3 separate regions of the Homo sapiens genome follow, and all the other regions are linked to region 3. Evidence: fine-mapped expression QTL. A gene starts in region 3. Each other region holds a variant in brackets. All regions are shown on one strand. Distances are between the middles of the regions.

The links.
Region 1: its variant is fine-mapped to the expression of ARHGAP45 in whole blood (TOPMed, PIP above 0.99).
Region 2: its variant is fine-mapped to the expression of ARHGAP45 in nucleus accumbens (GTEx, PIP 0.95).

Annotation. Positions count from the first base shown.
Region 1 is chr19:1,044,205-1,049,798 of GRCh38, forward strand. ABCA7 (ATP binding cassette subfamily A member 7) reads left to right here. Exons shown (of 47, transcript NM_019112.4): 11 at 373-540; 12 at 798-1,027; 13 at 2,026-2,202; 14 at 2,598-2,820; 15 at 2,953-3,174; 16 at 3,249-3,450; 17 at 4,691-4,801; 18 at 5,062-5,233. Among named protein-coding and RNA genes, the nearest start is that of ABCA7, 6.9 kb to the left of the region's middle. RefSeq lists silencers at 1,022-1,171, 1,262-1,311. The variant A/G (reference allele first, on the strand shown) is at 2,958.
Region 2 is chr19:1,086,221-1,091,814 of GRCh38, forward strand. POLR2E (RNA polymerase II, I and III subunit E) reads right to left here. Exons shown (of 8, transcript NM_002695.5): 3 at 5,572-5,594; 4 at 4,688-4,768; 5 at 3,867-3,925; 6 at 3,664-3,742; 7 at 3,252-3,331; 8 at 354-2,500. The coding sequence ends at 3,266. It overlaps ARHGAP45 (Rho GTPase activating protein 45), which reads left to right. Exons shown (of 23, transcript NM_012292.5): 23 at 1-408. Among named protein-coding and RNA genes, the nearest start is that of POLR2E, 6.4 kb to the right of the region's middle. RefSeq lists enhancers at 1-169, 2,736-2,835. The variant C/T (reference allele first, on the strand shown) is at 3,187.
Region 3 is chr19:1,064,142-1,069,735 of GRCh38, forward strand. ARHGAP45 (Rho GTPase activating protein 45) reads left to right here and starts at 3,026. Exons shown (of 23, transcript NM_012292.5): 1 at 3,026-3,354; 2 at 4,273-4,603. The coding sequence starts at 3,265. It overlaps ABCA7 (ATP binding cassette subfamily A member 7), which reads left to right. Exons shown (of 47, transcript NM_019112.4): 45 at 20-112; 46 at 790-1,030; 47 at 1,129-1,431. The coding sequence ends at 1,284. RefSeq lists silencers at 946-995, 2,836-3,595, 3,906-4,145, 4,676-4,775 and enhancers at 2,469-2,975, 5,166-5,325.

The sequences.
Region 1 (5,594 bases), 20 kb before region 3:
GCTGGGATTACAGGCGTGAACTACCACGTCCTGCTTTTTTTTTTTTTTTTTTTTTTTTTAAGAGATGGAGTCTCACTCTGTTGCCCAGGCTGGACTGCAGTGGCGAGATCTTGGCTCACTGCAACCTCCGCCTCCTGGATTCAAGCAATTCTCCTGCTTCAGCCTCACAAGTAACTGGGATTACAGGCATGCGCCACCACTCCCGGCTACTTTTTGTATTTTTAGTAGAGATGGGCTTTCACCATGTTGGCCAGGCTGGTCTCGAACTCCTGACCTCAGGTGATCCACCCGCCTCGCCTCCCAAAGTGCTGGGATTACAGGCATGAGCCACTGTGCCCGACCCAGACTCTCACTTTCACCTGCGCCCCCCAGCGGCTCCTGCAGATGCAGGATGAAGGAAGAAGGCAGCCCAGACCTGGAGGCCGGGACCACATGGAGGCCCTGCGATCCTTTCTGGACCCTGGGAGCGGTGGCTACAGCTGGCAGGACGCACACGCTGATGTGGGGCACCTGGTGGGCACGCTGGGCCGAGTGACGGAGGTGAGGGCCTGTCCACCTGCGGGGTCTGTTTCAGTGGGGAGGGCAGGTCCCATCCTAGTGTTCCCACCCTGGTGTTCCCAGGGGGAGGCGGGCCCGGCCCTAGTAAGAGCCTGGGATTTGTAGAGATCTCAGGAGGGAGCCGGCCGTGGGCCTACGAGGGGAAAACATGGCCCAGCCCCGAGGTCCAGGGGGAGGAGCGGAGTGGTCTAGGAGGCAGGCGGACCCCAGCGCCTAGGACTCACCCCCGCATCCCACAGTGCCTGTCCTTGGACAAGCTGGAGGCGGCACCCTCAGAGGCAGCCCTGGTGTCGCGGGCCCTGCAACTGCTCGCGGAACATCGATTCTGGGCCGGCGTCGTCTTCTTGGGACCTGAGGACTCTTCAGACCCCACAGAGCACCCAACCCCAGACCTGGGCCCCGGCCACGTGCGCATCAAAATCCGCATGGACATTGACGTGGTCACGAGGACCAATAAGATCAGGGACAGGTCAGGCGAGGGAGGGGGCGGGGGGATGAGGGACTGGGCGGGGCCAAGAGCGTGGTGGGTGGGGCCAGGCAGCATTCAGCCTATTGGAGACCATGATAGACAGGATCTGGGCTGTATCAACAGTGGTATGGTAGCCAGAGCCCGGGGCTCCTTAGACCAATAGGGGCCCGTGATGGGCGGGGCCTAGGTGCATGAGGGGCGTGGCCATGGGCCTGAGATAAGATGAGAGCAGGTATAGGTTGAGGGCAATGGTGGGCGGAGCCAGGTGTATTATTAGGTCCCTGGAATAAGGGTGGAGCTAAAATTGCACCGGGTGCTGAGCGCAGTAGATCTTGCCTGTTATCTCAGAACTTTGGGAGGCCAAAGTGGGAGAATCTCTTGAGGACAGGTATTCGAGACTAGCCTGGGCAACATAGTGAGACCGCCTCCCCCCCGCCCCCCTCCCCCACCAACCTCACGAAAATATCTTTAAAAATTAGCCAGGTGAGGCCGGGCACAGTGGCTCACGCCTGTAATCCCAGCACTTTGGGAGGCTGAGGCGGGCGGATCACGAGGTCAGGAGATCAAGACCATCCTGACTAACTCGGTGAAACCCTGCCTCTACTAAAAAAAAAAAGTACAAAAAATTAGCCGGGCGTGGTAGCACGCGCCTGTAGGCCCAGCTACCCAGGAGGCTGAGGCAGGAGAATCGCTTGAACCCAGGAGGCGGAGGTTGCAGTGAGCCGAGATGGCGCCACTGCACTCCAGCCTGGGCGATAGAGCGAGACTCCGTCTCAAACAAATGAATAAATGAATAAAATTAGCCAGGCGACTTGGGAGGCCGAGCTGGGGGGATCGTTTGATCCCGGGAGGTCAAGGCTGCAGTGAGCTATGATTGCAGCTCTTCACTCCAGCCTGGGCGACAGAGCAAGACCCTGTCTAAGAAAAAGGTTATTCAGGGTGGGGCCCCGGGAGTTTCTAGCCCTTCCCTACAACCGGCCACCATGCCCCTCTCGCAGGTTTTGGGACCCTGGCCCAGCCGCGGACCCCCTGACCGACCTGCGCTACGTGTGGGGCGGCTTCGTGTACCTGCAAGACCTGGTGGAGCGTGCAGCCGTCCGCGTGCTCAGCGGCGCCAACCCCCGGGCCGGCCTCTACCTGCAGCAGATGCCCTATCCGTGCTATGTGGACGACGTGTGAGCTCTGGCACCCCTCCCCGCTCTTCCCCGCGGCGGGAAGGTCCCGGGTGTGGGGGTGGGCCCAGGCTCTGTTGGGAACCTTCCTGCGGTCCAGGCTGCGAACTTTGCACCTTTACACCACTCCACGTGACCTGCTGCAGCGGGAGGAGCAGGGGACTCTGAGGGTCTGGTGGGGGGGGGGACTCTGAGGGTCTGGGGGCCCCCGGCGCAGGGACAGCCTGGGCTGCACTGATGCCTGAGAGCCAAAGGCTGGCTGGATCAGGTTCCAAGGAACAGGGAGGCAAATCTTCCCGCCTTGAGATCCCGGGACACGAACCAGTCGTGCCAGATGGTGGGCGGAGGGGGGGTCTGCGGAGGGTCTCCAGCCTCCACCCCAGCCGTCCCCACCCCAGGTTCCTGCGTGTGCTGAGCCGGTCGCTGCCGCTCTTCCTGACGCTGGCCTGGATCTACTCCGTGACACTGACAGTGAAGGCCGTGGTGCGGGAGAAGGAGACGCGGCTGCGGGACACCATGCGCGCCATGGGGCTCAGCCGCGCGGTGCTCTGGCTAGGCTGGTTCCTCAGCTGCCTCGGGCCCTTCCTGCTCAGCGCCGCACTGCTGGTTCTGGTGCTCAAGGTGGGCGCGCCTCGGCCTGCCCGGCTGCAGAATGGGTGCGCTGGAGGGTGACAGACAGGGGCGGCCCCACGTGGGTGCGCGCCCCCAGGCCAATCCAGGAGCTGCACCCTAAGCTCCCGTTGCCTCTCACAGCTGGG[A/G]GACATCCTCCCCTACAGCCACCCGGGCGTGGTCTTCCTGTTCTTGGCAGCCTTCGCGGTGGCCACGGTGACCCAGAGCTTCCTGCTCAGCGCCTTCTTCTCCCGCGCCAACCTGGCTGCGGCCTGCGGCGGCCTGGCCTACTTCTCCCTCTACCTGCCCTACGTGCTGTGTGTGGCTTGGCGGGACCGGCTGCCCGCGGGTGGCCGCGTGGCCGCGGTGAGAGCCGGGTCGGGCGTGGATGGGGGACGCCCCCCGCTTCGGCCGCTCACTGACCGCCCGCTTTTCCGCAGAGCCTGCTGTCGCCCGTGGCCTTCGGCTTCGGCTGCGAGAGCCTGGCTCTGCTGGAGGAGCAGGGCGAGGGCGCGCAGTGGCACAACGTGGGCACCCGGCCTACGGCAGACGTCTTCAGCCTGGCCCAGGTCTCTGGCCTTCTGCTGCTGGACGCGGCGCTCTACGGCCTCGCCACCTGGTACCTGGAAGCTGTGTGCCCAGGTGGGCCGTAGGGGGCGGGGCTCCGGGCCGGGTCGCACCTGCTTTGCGGGAGGCTGAGCTAGGGGTGTGGCCTCCAGGCCGTTTGGGGGTGGGGGGTGGCTTATTCCCTTGGAGAGAAGGCGGGGCTTCTTGGCACACGCATGCAGGTGGCTGCATTGGAGGGGCGGGGCCTGAGGCAGGTGGGCGGGGTTTCTGGGCCGCCTCATACCTGGACGCCCTGATTCCAGGTGTATGGCCAGAAGCTGGCACAGTCGCCGGGCGCTGTGGCTCACGCTTGTAATCCCAGCACTTTGGGAGGCCAAGGCAGGAGAATCGCTTGAGCCCAGGAGTTTGAGACCAGGCTGGGCAATATAGTGAGACCTCATCAATACAAAAAGTTAGCTGGGCGTGGTGGCACGCTGGGCGTGGTGGCACGCTCCTGTAGTCCCAGCTACTCGGGAGGATGGGGTGGGAGGATCACTCGAGCCCAGGAGGTTGAGGCTGCTGTGAGCCGTGATCCCACCAGCCTGGGCAACAGAGTGAGACCTCCATCTCTTTAAAAAAAAAAAAAAAAAAAAAGCTGGCTGGGTGCGGTGGCTCACGCCTGTAATCCCAGCACTTTGGGAGGCCGAGGCGGGCGGGTCATCTGAGGTCGGGATTTCGAGACCAGCCTGACCAACATGGAGAAACCCCGTCTCTACTAAAAATACAAAATTAGCTGGGTGTGGTGGCGGGTGCCTGTTTCCTAGCTACTTGGAAGGCAGAGGCAGGAGAAATGCTTGAATCCCGGAGGCGGAGGTTGCGGTGAGTCGAGATCGCGCCACTGCACTCCAGCCTGGGCAACAAGAGTGAAACTCAGTCTCAAAAAAAAAAAAACAAAAAAAAAAAAAACAAGGCCGGGCACGGTGGCTCACGCCTGCTTTCCCAGCACTTTGGGAGGCCGAGGTGGGCAGATCACGAGGTCAGGAGATGGAGACCATCCTGGCTAACACGGTGAAACCCCGTCTCTCCCAAAAATACAAAAAATTATCCAGGCATGGTGGCGGGCGCCTGTAGTCCCAGCTACTCAGGAGGCTGAGGCAGGAGAATGACGTGAACTGGGGAGGCGGAGCTTGCAGCGAGTCAAAATCGTGCCACTGCACTCCAGCCTGGGCAACAGAGCAAGACTCCGTCTCAAAAAAAAAAAAAAACAAAACCCCAAAAAAAGCCTGGTACACTCCTGGGGGGTGGGCTAAGCAATAACCCGCGCCCCTCCCCGCAGGCCAGTACGGGATCCCTGAACCATGGAATTTTCCTTTTCGGAGGAGCTACTGGTGCGGACCTCGGCCCCCCAAGAGTCCAGCCCCTTGCCCCACCCCGCTGGACCCAAAGGGTGAGGCACTACGAGGCTTAATAGCTGGTTGTCCACATATGCCCAGTTCCCCCCCAAAACGAGATTCCACAGATGCCAATGACAATGACCTGGACACCCCAACCCTCACACCTGCCCTGAAGACACTGCGGTCCCCAAGCTCCCGCAGCTTTTATAGGCCCCGGCCCAGCAGGTCCCGGATTCCACAGCCCAGCTCTGAGGGACTTGCAGGCCCCAGGACCCCCATGACCTCCATGGCTGAGTCCACCCCATCTCTGCAGTGCTGGTAGAAGAGGCACCGCCCGGCCTGAGTCCTGGCGTCTCCGTTCGCAGCCTGGAGAAGCGCTTTCCTGGAAGCCCGCAGCCAGCCCTGCGGGGGCTCAGCCTGGACTTCTACCAGGGCCACATCACCGCCTTCCTGGGCCACAACGGGGCCGGCAAGACCACCACCCTGTGAGCCCCCAACCACTCCCTCCCCGTGAGCCCCCCCACTCCCACCCCGTGAGCCCCCCCACCACTCCCTCCCCGTGAGCCCCCCACCACTCCCTCCCCGTGAACCCCCCACCACTCCCTCCCCGTGAGCCCCCCCACCACTCCCTCCCCGTGAGCCCCCCACCACTCCCTCCCCGTGAACCCCCCACCACTCCCTCCCCGTGAGCCCCCCCACCACTCCCTCCCCGTGAACCCCCCACCACTCCCTCCCCGTGAGCCCCCCCACCACTCCCTCCCCGTGAGGCCCCCCACCACTCCCTCCCCGTGAACCCCCCACCACTCCCTCCCCGTGAGCCCCCCCACCACTCCCTCCCCGTGAACC
Region 2 (5,594 bases), 22 kb after region 3:
TGCACCCCGGCTCAGCTGAGCTGGGGAACACTGCTGTCGTGTGAAGTCACAGTGGCCTTGTTGGTGCCCACAGGGCTGTGTGGATGGAGGAAGCTGTCCCTGCCCAGTGCATCCCCCAGGTCATCACGGGGACGCAGGAGGCAGGCCCTGCCCTGCCCTCTCCTCACAGGTCTGTTGCAGGGACTCCAGAAACCATTCTGGGAGCCGTGGATGGGGGCGGAGCTGGGGTTTGGTGCAGTTTCCAGGGTGCAGTACAGCAGGGCCTGAATACTGGCCCTGGACTCCCTTTTCCAGAACACCAGGTGTGGCCACCTGGGGCTCAGGTACACAGTGGGGTCTCTCGGAAGCCACCGTGTGGTTCTTTCACAGGCACGTTTATTTTGCTGAAATAAAAAGTTTTTAATCGGGTGTTTTCTGTGGCAGCTGCAAGCTTAGAAGATTTTCTGTGGCAGCTGCAAGCTTAGAAGAAGGGGCCAGGGAGGGGACAGAGAGAGCCCCGTGGCGTGGCCCTGGGCCTCCCCCTAGGGGAGGGATGTGTGAGGAAGGGAACCCCCCGCCACGGGGCCCCGCGAGGTGGGAGCCCGGGTGGTCTTCACCACAGGCTGTGCAGACGGTCAGGCATCGAATGACCTCGTCACGTCCACCTGCAGCCCAGGGCAGTCCAGGAAAACGTTCTCGATGACGGACGTATCCCCCGGCTCTAAGGTTTCGCACGTCAGCCCCACATGGCCACCAAGCACTGGAAACGTGGCCCATGCGCCTGTGGAACTGCATTTTTTTTTTTTTTTGAGACAGGGTGTGACCCTGTGGCCCAGGCTGGAGTACAGGAGCACAATCGTAGCTCACTGCAGCCTCGGCCTCCTGGGCTCAAATGATCCTCCCGCCTCAGCCTCCCAAAGTGTTGGGATTACAGGTGTGAGCCACTGTGCCCAGGTAATCTTAAAGTTTTTTGTAGAGGTGGGGGGTTTCTCTGTGTTGCCCGGGCTGGTCTTTTAACTCCTGAGCTCAAGCGATCCTCCACTTCCTGGGTTCAAGTGATTCTCCTGCCTTAGCTCCCAAGTAGCTGGGATTACAGGCATGCACCACCACGCCCAGGTAATTTTTGTATTTTTTGCAGTGATGGGATTTTGCCATGTTGGTCAGGCTGGTCTCGAACTCCCGACCTCAGGTGATCCGCCCACCTCGGCCTCCCAAAGTGCTGGGATTACAGGCGTGAGCCACCGCGCCCGGCCACCTCCAGAATTTTCTCATCTTCCCAAACTAAAACTGTGCACATGACACACTCTGTCCCCTCCCTCCTCCCCAGCCCTGGGAACCCCCATCCCCACCCAACTCCCCAGTCCCGGGAACCCCCATCCTACTTCCAGTCTCTGACGACTCTAGTGACCTCCTAGGAGTGACATCAGTGTTTGTCCCTTTGGGTCTGGCTTGCTTTGGCCAAGACAATTTTGAAAAAAGTACATTTGGAGAGAAGGGGAAGCACTGTCCCCATCACACACACAGTCCGCGGCCTGGGGATCTGGGGACCCTGCTGCACAGAACAGTGGGCGCGTTACAGACCACCGACCGCCCGAGGGTGAATTACATCTTAATAAAGCTACTGTGAGAGAACCACGTGGCTAGGTTAAACTTGGGCAGGCGAGGCCTTCTGAAATCAGACAGTAAGCAAACGGGGAAGTAGAGCCAGATCCCAAACGTCTGTAAGAGGAACTGGCCGCAAACCACAGCTGCACAAGCCAGAGAACAACTCCACACCCTCACGGGAAGGGAAGAGACAGACACGCTCACGCCTTACCCAGGAGCACGAAGTGGGAGGGCAGGGCGAGGGCCTGGGGAGACACTGACCCCTGAAGCCAGCGCGAGGAGGGCACACCTGCCAGGCTGACCTCGTGTGCTTGGGGTGAGGCAAGGCCACCTGCTGGAAACCTTGTTAGTCGGCCTGGTTTCTGTATCAAGCAAATTTATTTGCTCAAAACATCTTTACCATTTGAAAACACCCAACCTCCTACAACAACCGAGAACTCCAGAGCTGGCATCTCGCACCCTGGTGGCTTGAGCGCGTGCATGGCTGTGAATGGAGTAAAGAGCCGAGGCCGGGCGGGGGCCGCCACGCATCAGGGCCCCCGAGGGAGGGAAGACGAGGGGTGGAAGGCCGAGGGCCCAGGAGGAAGCAGTGGCTGGTGGGAGACCCGGACCCCAAACCCCCAACAGAGGGGACCCAGCGTGGTCTGGGTGAAGACCCGGCACCAGCTGCCCCCAGGTGACCTCCCTCTGGGGGCCTTGTTCCTTCTGAGGCTGCATCTCGCACAAATCCACAGGTGAATGGGGCGGGCTGGGCCACAGGAAGCCTCACCCCAGGACGGGAGAACGTGGGTGGAGGCCACCTGCCTTGGGGAGTCCAGAGGAGCAGCAGCCGTGAGAGCTGTGGGGGCCGGATTCTGGCAGGGCAGGGGCGTTTGTCCTGCAGGGATGGGGGTCGCTGTGTGTCCGCCTCTAGGGGCTAGGAAAGGGGGAGAGTGGTCACACGACAGGGGCAGATCCAGTATGCCCAGGACAGCACAACGCCCACCGAACGTGACGGGGTGCGGGAGGCCTGGCAGGAGGCGGCCCAGGCCGCAGTGCAGAGGCCGGACGGCTCCCTTGTGCCCAGCGGTCACACAGGCGTGGGCAGTAGCTCTGACCTCAAAGGAACCGTGCCAGCGTCAGACCAGGCCAAGCCCCACCCCTGGGCTGAGTGTGAAGTGGGGCGGCCTGCAGGACAGCAGCTCGCCATGACCAGAGTCCAGGGGAAGCTGGGAGGCTCTCGCCATGGGCAGAGGCTGTCCCGCTCCTGAGACTCCGGCCAGTCCCTCCCAAGGTGCCCACTCAGGGAAGGGTTGGCCTGAAGCTGTGCCTCCTCTCTCAGCTCTGGGGTCTCTGGGCAGGTTTCTAAACCCTCTTCTGGAAAGTCCCGCCGCACAACTGCCCTGCAGGTGAACGTCTCCTGCTTCTAAGGTGGGTCAGCGGCGGAGAGACGCACGCCCCGCGTACCAGGACTCTCCCGTCCAGGCGCACAGCCCCAAGAGCTGCAGCCTACGGTCGGGTGGGGTCTGGGGGTCTGGGGGTGTCCTGGGAGCGCCTGGTGGCCCAGCTGGGCTGGTGCTAGGAGGGTCTTGCTGCCGGACAAAGCAAGAACAGCCCTGCACA[C/T]CGACGGAGGGGACGACACCCCTGCCTCTGACCCCACCTCAGTGCCTGTCCCTCGGCCGTCTCACCTGTCAGGCGGTAGCTACTGCACCAGCCGGTAGGTGATGTACCTGCCAGCCGTCTCACTGGGCCGGATGATCTTCACCACCTGCAGAGACAGAGAGCAGGGGCTGCGAATGCTTGAGGGGTCTCACTGCAGTCACCAGACAGCAGGCGGGCAGCACACGGGCTGGGGATGGCCGGCAGGGGTCCGAGATGGCTGACCCTGGGCTGTGGGACCCGCTCCCTGGGAACCTGGGTCACGCTCTTCTCTGGGCCCAGTGGCCCTGGCTTTAAGAGGGGGATATTGGGGGTGTGGTCTCGAGGTCCCCTCCAGGCCCTGGATCAAGGGGGAGGGGCTGTCGGGGAGGGACAGAAGCCCCCTTCTCCGAGTGGTCAGCTCAGAGCAGCCCCAGGGCCCCTTCTCCCCACAGGGCTCACCTGCCCACGCTTTATCCCAAAGTAGCGCGCCACAGGGTCCCCCGCCTGGATCCTGGGCAGCTGGTTCTCTCGGAGCTTACTGCGAAGCACCGTCAGGAAAATGCCAGACAGGGCCGTTGGGGGGGCAGGGGTGTGTGTGGGGGGGGAACGCGGAAGTCTCGAGGGACAGGGAGGGGCGGGGCCGGTGGGGCTGGAAAGGATACTATCGGGCCAGCAGCTCTGTCACCTCCTCCTTGGTCATGACGACGTGCTCAGGGACTAGCTGCCGAGAGAGGAAGCCACCAGGCATCACCAAGGGCTGGTGAGACCCCACGTGGCTCCCAGGTGCCACCACAGCCCCTGCGCCTTCAGACGGACAAGAGCCCTGAACCCCACCCCGATCCCCGGCACTCAGGGAGCCCACCCACCCCACCCTGGCTCCACAGGCGGGGGACGGAGTCACAGCTCCTGGGGCTTCTGAGGCAGACGGGCTGGGCACAGCCACCTCCTGCTGGGACTCCTCCTGTCCCAGCACTAGGGTCCCTCCACACTCCCAGCAGTCCCGATTCTACAGGCTGGGGTGGGCCCGGGATCTGCATTTTTTTTTTTTTTTTTTTTTTTGAGATGGAGTCTTGCTCTGTCTCCCAGGCTGGAGTGCAGTGGCACAATCTCGGCTCCCCGAGTAGCTGGGACTACAGGCGCTCGCCACCACGCCTGGCTAATTTTTTTGTATTTTTAGTAGAGACGGGGTTTCACCGTGTTAGCCAGGATGGTCTGGAACTCCTGACCTCGTGATCCGCCCGCCTCGGCCTCCCAAAGTGCTGGGATTACATGTGTGAGCCACCGCGCCCGGCCGGGATCTGCATTTCTAGGAAGCTCCCGGGTTCGGCTGCTGCAGGCCCAGGGCCACCCTTTGAGAACCCTGTCCTCCATGCACTAATAGGAACACCTGCCCTGGGCCCCAGATCCCACATCTTCCTGGCCACCCACAAACGCTGCATCTCTGCCGGCCCCACGCAGGCGGGATTCCGCGGCGCGCGCCCACCTCGTGCTCCGTGATGTTGATGAGCAGCTCCTGCTGCAGAAACTGCTCCAGGATGTACTTGGGGGCCATGTCGACCAGGGACTGGAAGAGAGCGGCTCTAAGGCACGGCCCGGAGGGGCCCAGACAACCCCAACCCCATTTCCTGCCTCAAGCTACCTGGGGCTTACTCGTGTGCCCCAACAACACACCCACGTCGTGAATCAGAAAACCCCACCGCCAGCCCAGGAGCCTTCAACAGCCCGCCCCTCCCCAGCCTCTCTGCTCATCGAGAGCCTCATCCAGCAGTGAAGTGGCCGTGGAAACTCGGATGTGTTTCCATCCATCACACGCTTCCAGGGGCGGCCCTCAGAGCTGGCAGGGCGACCTCTTCCCCATACAGGGGTGCTGCTCTGTGTGGCTGCGTGAACCCCACAGCTGGTGGGCCAGGGACTAAACTGCTCTGCTGACTGCCCGTCACAGCACAGCAGCCTGGCTCCAGAGTGTCCGACAGACAGACGGGGAACACGGATAGGCCCCTGGAGGACCCCGTGCCGGGCCTCCTCTGCAAGTCCCCCTGGACATCAGCTCAGGATAAAGAACCTCCGGCTCCTGGAATCTGCACCAGGCCGAGGGCTGGAGCCCACAGGAGCTGGCGAGAGGCACAGTGCCCTCCGCCCTGACGCCCCTCCTGAGAGCTGGGGGAGGACGGCGGCTGCCTGGGGTGGGGCCCATGGACGCGGTGGGAGGGAGGCGGTCGGGGCTTGCCGGACATCCCGGCCACATCCTCCAGGGCACCCTGGCTGGCCTGGCCCAAAGCCCAAGGCACGTGGGCCGCCTGTGGGTACTGCTTGCGGGAGGAGGCTGGGGAGGGGGAGAGGCTGGCGGGGTGGGGCAGGGGTGCCCACCTGCTTGGCGGAGGGTGTCATGC
Region 3 (5,594 bases):
TGGTGCCGGGTCCCGACAGCATGGAGGAGTGTGAAGCGCTCTGCTCGCGCCTGGCCATCATGGTGAATGGGCGGTTCCGCTGCCTGGGCAGCCCGCAACATCTCAAGGGCAGGTGAGCCGGCGCGGCCTCCAGGCAGGTGTGGGGTGAGGGTGGGCACGTAGGTAGGCTCAGGGGAGAGGCCAGACGTAGAGCCGGGTGAGGAAAGTTTGGCTCCAACTGGAGAGATGGCCAAGGCTTTAGATTGTCCTGCAGGGGTGACTGAGGGGGCGAGACAGGCTGGGGTGTGCTGGGGGCGCAGGACCAGGAGGCGTGAGCCGGGGGCTCTGGGTGGATTTAGAAGACACAATCAGGTGTGCGTTGGAGTAGGTGCAGCCTGGAGAGGTGAGGGTGGATTGATGGGTGGAGTTAGGGGAGGGCCTGGTTAGTGGGCGGGGCCATAGGAAAGTGGGGCGGGGGTATTTATTGTGTGGGCGGGGGTAGAGTGCAAGGGCGAAAGAGGAGTGTCCGAAAAAGGAGTCAAGTGGGGTGATAGCTTCGAGAGCAACCTGGGCAACCTAGGGAGACCCCATCTCTATAAAAAATTTAAAAATTAGCTGGACATGGTGGTGTGTGCCTGTGGTCTCAGCTACGCGGGCGGGGGGTGGCGGGGGACTGAGACGGGAGGACCACTTGATCGCTAGGGTAGTACAAGTATGGGGCGGGGCCAGAGAGTATTAGGGGCTGGAGGGTGAGCTGAGGTGGGACCTGGGAAAGGCCCGATCCGGTAGCCCTGGCCCCACTCACTGCAGATTCGCGGCGGGTCACACACTGACCCTGCGGGTGCCCGCCGCAAGGTCCCAGCCGGCAGCGGCCTTCGTGGCGGCCGAGTTCCCTGGGGCGGAGCTGCGCGAGGCACATGGAGGCCGCCTGCGCTTCCAGCTGCCGCCGGGAGGGCGCTGCGCCCTGGCGCGCGTCTTTGGAGAGCTGGCGGTGCACGGCGCAGAGCACGGCGTGGAGGACTTTTCCGTGAGCCAGACGATGCTGGAGGAGGTGATCACGGCGCCGGGGTCGGGCTGGGGGAGGCAGGCTGGGGGCCAGGCCCGTGGGCTGACCGTCCCTCTTGTCCCCTCTGGGCTGCCCACCGCTAGGTATTCTTGTACTTCTCCAAGGACCAGGGGAAGGACGAGGACACCGAAGAGCAGAAGGAGGCAGGAGTGGGAGTGGACCCCGCGCCAGGCCTGCAGCACCCCAAACGCGTCAGCCAGTTCCTCGATGACCCTAGCACTGCCGAGACTGTGCTCTGAGCCTCCCTCCCCTGCGGGGCCGCGGGGAGGCCCTGGGAATGGCAAGGGCAAGGTAGAGTGCCTAGGAGCCCTGGACTCAGGCTGGCAGAGGGGCTGGTGCCCTGGAGAAAATAAAGAGAAGGCTGGAGAGAAGCCGTGGTGGTGAAACCGTGTGCATGTGTGTCCTTGAGCCAGGCTGCACACATGTCCACACAGCTGCCTGCACATGCGTCTGGATATGGCTGGCCCCTTGCAAGCTGAGTGTGCACATACGGGCCAAGTGGCGATTCATAGGACACAGGTGTGAGCGTGCCTACAGCTGACCGGATCCCAGCTGTAAATGCCTCTGTGGCCAGCCCAGGAGTTGGGGATGTGAGTGCGGGCCTCATAAGGGCCTGGTCACACCGTCCCTGTCCCCACGTCCCTGCGTGCCTATGTGGGGCTGGCGCCTAAGGGCGGTACCTGTAAGTGCCTGGCCATAAAGTGGGGATGAGGTCAGGACTCAGGAATGTCCTGGGAAGCTTACAGGAGCCCGGTGTCCCGGAGCACAGGCCAGGGCCGGGCCAGAAGCCCATCCGACATCCAGCTGACCCTCACCCTCTGACCCCAGCCCTCAGCGCCATGAGTCGGGGGCAAAGAGTTCTCAAGGGTCTGCTGGGCTGGGTTTGCACTTGGACCTGGGCCTGGAGAGCCAGACTTGGAGCAAGGGGCTGTGGCCTTCATGTCCTGTGCCCCAGAGATCTGCCCCTCCCACCCGAGGTAGGTGGGAATGGGGTTTGGGAAAGGAAAGAGGTTGGGGTTTTGGGATTGGGGGTGGGGTTCTGGAAGGGGACAGCAGGGAGACTTGGGGAGGGGGGAGAGAGTTCACACTGCGGGGTGGGGGTTGGGGGAAGGTAGGAGGCTGGGATCTGTATGCCTGCAGATGCCCCAGCTCTTGGCCAATGCCGCCTCAGGCTGTTATCAGCAACGGGTGCCTGCGTCCTGCTGCCCAGCACGTCCGGTGGTCCAGAGTCACTGGAATGCAGCTTGGGAGGCGGGGCTGGGGACCTTAGCTAAGGGCAGGTCTGGGGCAACATGATATGGCCCACAGGGCTGCTGAGAGGTAACCAGGTGTCCTCAGCATATTCTGCCGATGGTGGGGTCCACACCACACTTTGGGGACCCCTGTGCAGGCAGCCCAGGACCAGGTGGACGTGGGGACCCAGACGGACGTGGGGACCCAGACGGACAGGGCCCGGTAACCTGGATTGTTCTGACTTCCTGGACGTCTTTGCCCCCAGGGTTTCGGTTCTGGGCCTCAGTTTCCCCACCTGTCCTCGACCTGACCCACTTCACGGGGCTGCAGGGCGGGTGATGGGGGGGACCCTACTCTGCCCGGCCCTGCTGGGGCCCGGCCACACCCTAGGGTCTGCAGGAGAGGCGGTGGAGCGGGCTTGCCTTCAGGGAAAAGGGGGCTGCAGGGGCGCAGCTTCGGCCTGTGCGTGTGTCTGGGGTCTGAGGGCGAGGCTCCAGGGGCTTGGTGGCGTCTGAGCGCGTGTGGAGGTCCGGGTCTCTGCGTGTCATCGTGCACGTGTCTGTGCACGCCCACTCGCGTCCGGGAGTGAGAGTCAGCGCCCTGCAGTCGGCCGCCCCGTGCCCGCCAGCGTCAGGCAGGGGCTCCCGGTCCCACCCCGCGAGCGGCGCGGCTCCGAGCTCCCGAAGGCGGAAGCGGGGGGCGCGGCCCGGGGCTGGGGGCGGGGCCTGCGACCTCACCTTCGCGCCCACTCCGCAGAGCCGCAGGCTGAGGCCGGGAAGGGTCGGGGGCGAGGCCGCGTCGCCGCCTCCCCGAAGCCTTTTCCTGTTGGGGGGAGGGCCCGCCAGTGACGGCCGGGCCTGTCACGTGGGCCTGACAGCTGGGGAGGGGGTGGCCGGCGACAATGTGGTCCCGAAGCGGCCAGCGCCGGGAGCTGCAGCGCTGAGACCCCCAGCCCGCCCCCTCGGGCTCCCGGCCGGGGCCCCATCATGTTCTCCAGGAAGAAACGAGAGCTCATGAAAACCCCTTCCATCTCGAAAAAGAACCGCGCGGGAAGCCCCAGCCCGCAGCCCTCGGGGGTGAGTGGAGCCCGGGTGAGACCCGGAGCTGACGCCGGGCCGCAGGGGGACAGGGACCCGCCCTGTGCTCGGGGCTCATGCTGGGGCGGCGGCTGGGGGCTCGTGCCAGCTACAGCCCCTACCGGGCGGGACGGCAGGGGCCACAGCAGAGAGGCCGGGACCCCGGCATTCAGCTCACGGTAGGGACCCTGGGAGTGGTGGCCGCCTCCCTCCACTCCATCCAGGGCTGGCCGCGGGGCCCAGGGAGCAGGAAGGGAGGGTGCCGGGTTGGGACGATGTTGTGTTTGGGCCGCTGCAGGTTGGGGGCTTAGGCAATCTGGGGGCTCTAGGGGCCGTTGAGATGGGAGGGCTGTGGCCTGGCCATTGGGCTGAAGGTTGACCGGGCAGCAGATCCTCTAATGGGATCCACCAGGTTCAGAGGTTGGGGAGTGTCCCCAGGCCTGGGGTGTCTACAAAGCTGGGGGGGGGGTCTACAGAGCTTGGGGGTCCGGGATGTCTACAAGGCCTGGGGCTGCCCATAGGCTCTGGGGTTCCATGGACCTTTAGGGGACAGACAGAGTCAGAAGTGTGTTCACTTAAAGCACCTGCGTTGTAGGAGCCTGAGGGGGGCTTGAAGGGCTGAGGACCCTCCCCACCCCCACCAGGAAGTGGGGACCCCCCTCCCGCGCCTCCCCGCAGGCCCCGCCCCGGCTGTGGTTTGGGCAAGGACCGTTGTTTGTGAAAGCTCTAGGGAAGAGGATGTTGGGTAACAGGTGGGGGGGTACACTACCAAATCTCGGCCCTGTGACCTCTGGCCTTTGACCCCTGTGGGGTCAGGGTGATGGTGGCCCTCCACAGCCCCACTTCATTTCTGGGGAAACTGAGGCCGTGTCCAGGCCGGAAAATCCCTTTAACGAGCTCCCCTCGGACCTGCCCAAGGAGCTGCCCAGGAAGGATGGGGCTGACGCGGTGTTCCCCGGACCAAGCCTGGAGCCGCCCGCTGGGTCCTCCGGCGTCAAGGCCACAGGGACCCTCAAGCGGCCCACCAGCCTGAGCCGCCACGCCAGCGCGGCTGGCTTCCCCCTGTCGGGTGCTGCCTCCTGGACACTGGGCCGGAGCCACCGGAGCCCACTGACAGCCGCCAGCCCGGGCGAGCTGCCCACCGAGGGTGCCGGCCCGGACGTCGTCGAGGACATCTCCCATCTGCTGGCGGACGTGGCCCGCTTCGCTGAGGGCCTTGAGAAACTTAAGGAGTGTGTGTTGCGTGACGGTGAGAGCCACGGGGACACCGAGGCCTGGGTGGAAGACAGAGCCAGACCCAAGGGAGGATGGAGGGAGGGACTTGGGGAGGCTCAGAAGGGAGGGAGGCTCAGATGGCAGGGAGGGCTGTGTGGAAGAGGCCATGACAGCTAAGGCTCTGAGGGATGTGTAGGAGTTTGGTGGGGGAGTCCCTGAGCGTACACTGGCTCAAGAGGGTGCCCACTTTATTTTTTTTAAAGGATCTGATGGCAATTAGGAGGGAAAGGCAGAGGAAATGTCCCATGCACAGGCTCAGAAACACGGAAACAGAGAATGCATTTGGGGGCCAAGGTGTGGGGTGCCGCTGGTGTAGGATGAAGGCATGACAACGCCAGGCAGAAGGGCAATGGGGAGCCATAGAAGGTGTTAGAGCACAGGACAGATGGGGGCAGATCTGTGTCTTGGAATGAAGCAAACTGGGGGTTGGCTGAGGTCTGGGTGGAGAGAGATTCAGGAGGCATGGCGAGGGGCAGGATGGGGTCATCAGGCGGCGGAGGTGCTGGGACCCAGCGGCCTGCAGGCCGGCAGTTCCGTTTTCTCCTCCACGCGGCCGCTGACAGCCCTGCTTCCTGCCGAGTTATTTTCATCTGCTTCCTGTTTGTCCCTGGCAGCCCAGGCGGGCACCTCATGTGCTGCCTTCAGCCCCCGGCTCCTCCCAGAAACCACAGTGCCAGGGTCATGCCAGGCGCTCTGATCTGCTCCCAGCAGCCGCCCATTTTACAGATGACGAAACTAAGTCTCTAGTGAGGCCCTGACCCCTGGCTCACCCAGCCAGGGCAGGGCAGAGCCAGGACTGGACCTCAAGTGGTGGAGTGGCCTCTGCACCTTCAGGGCACTAGTTGGGGAAGGCCCGGTCCCCACTGGGAGGAGTGGGAGCCCCCGGGTTATCTGGTCCCAGGGGCGGGGGCTAGGCTGCTTTCCTGGGGAAACCCTAATCTCGGTTCCTTTCCGATCCTGGCGCT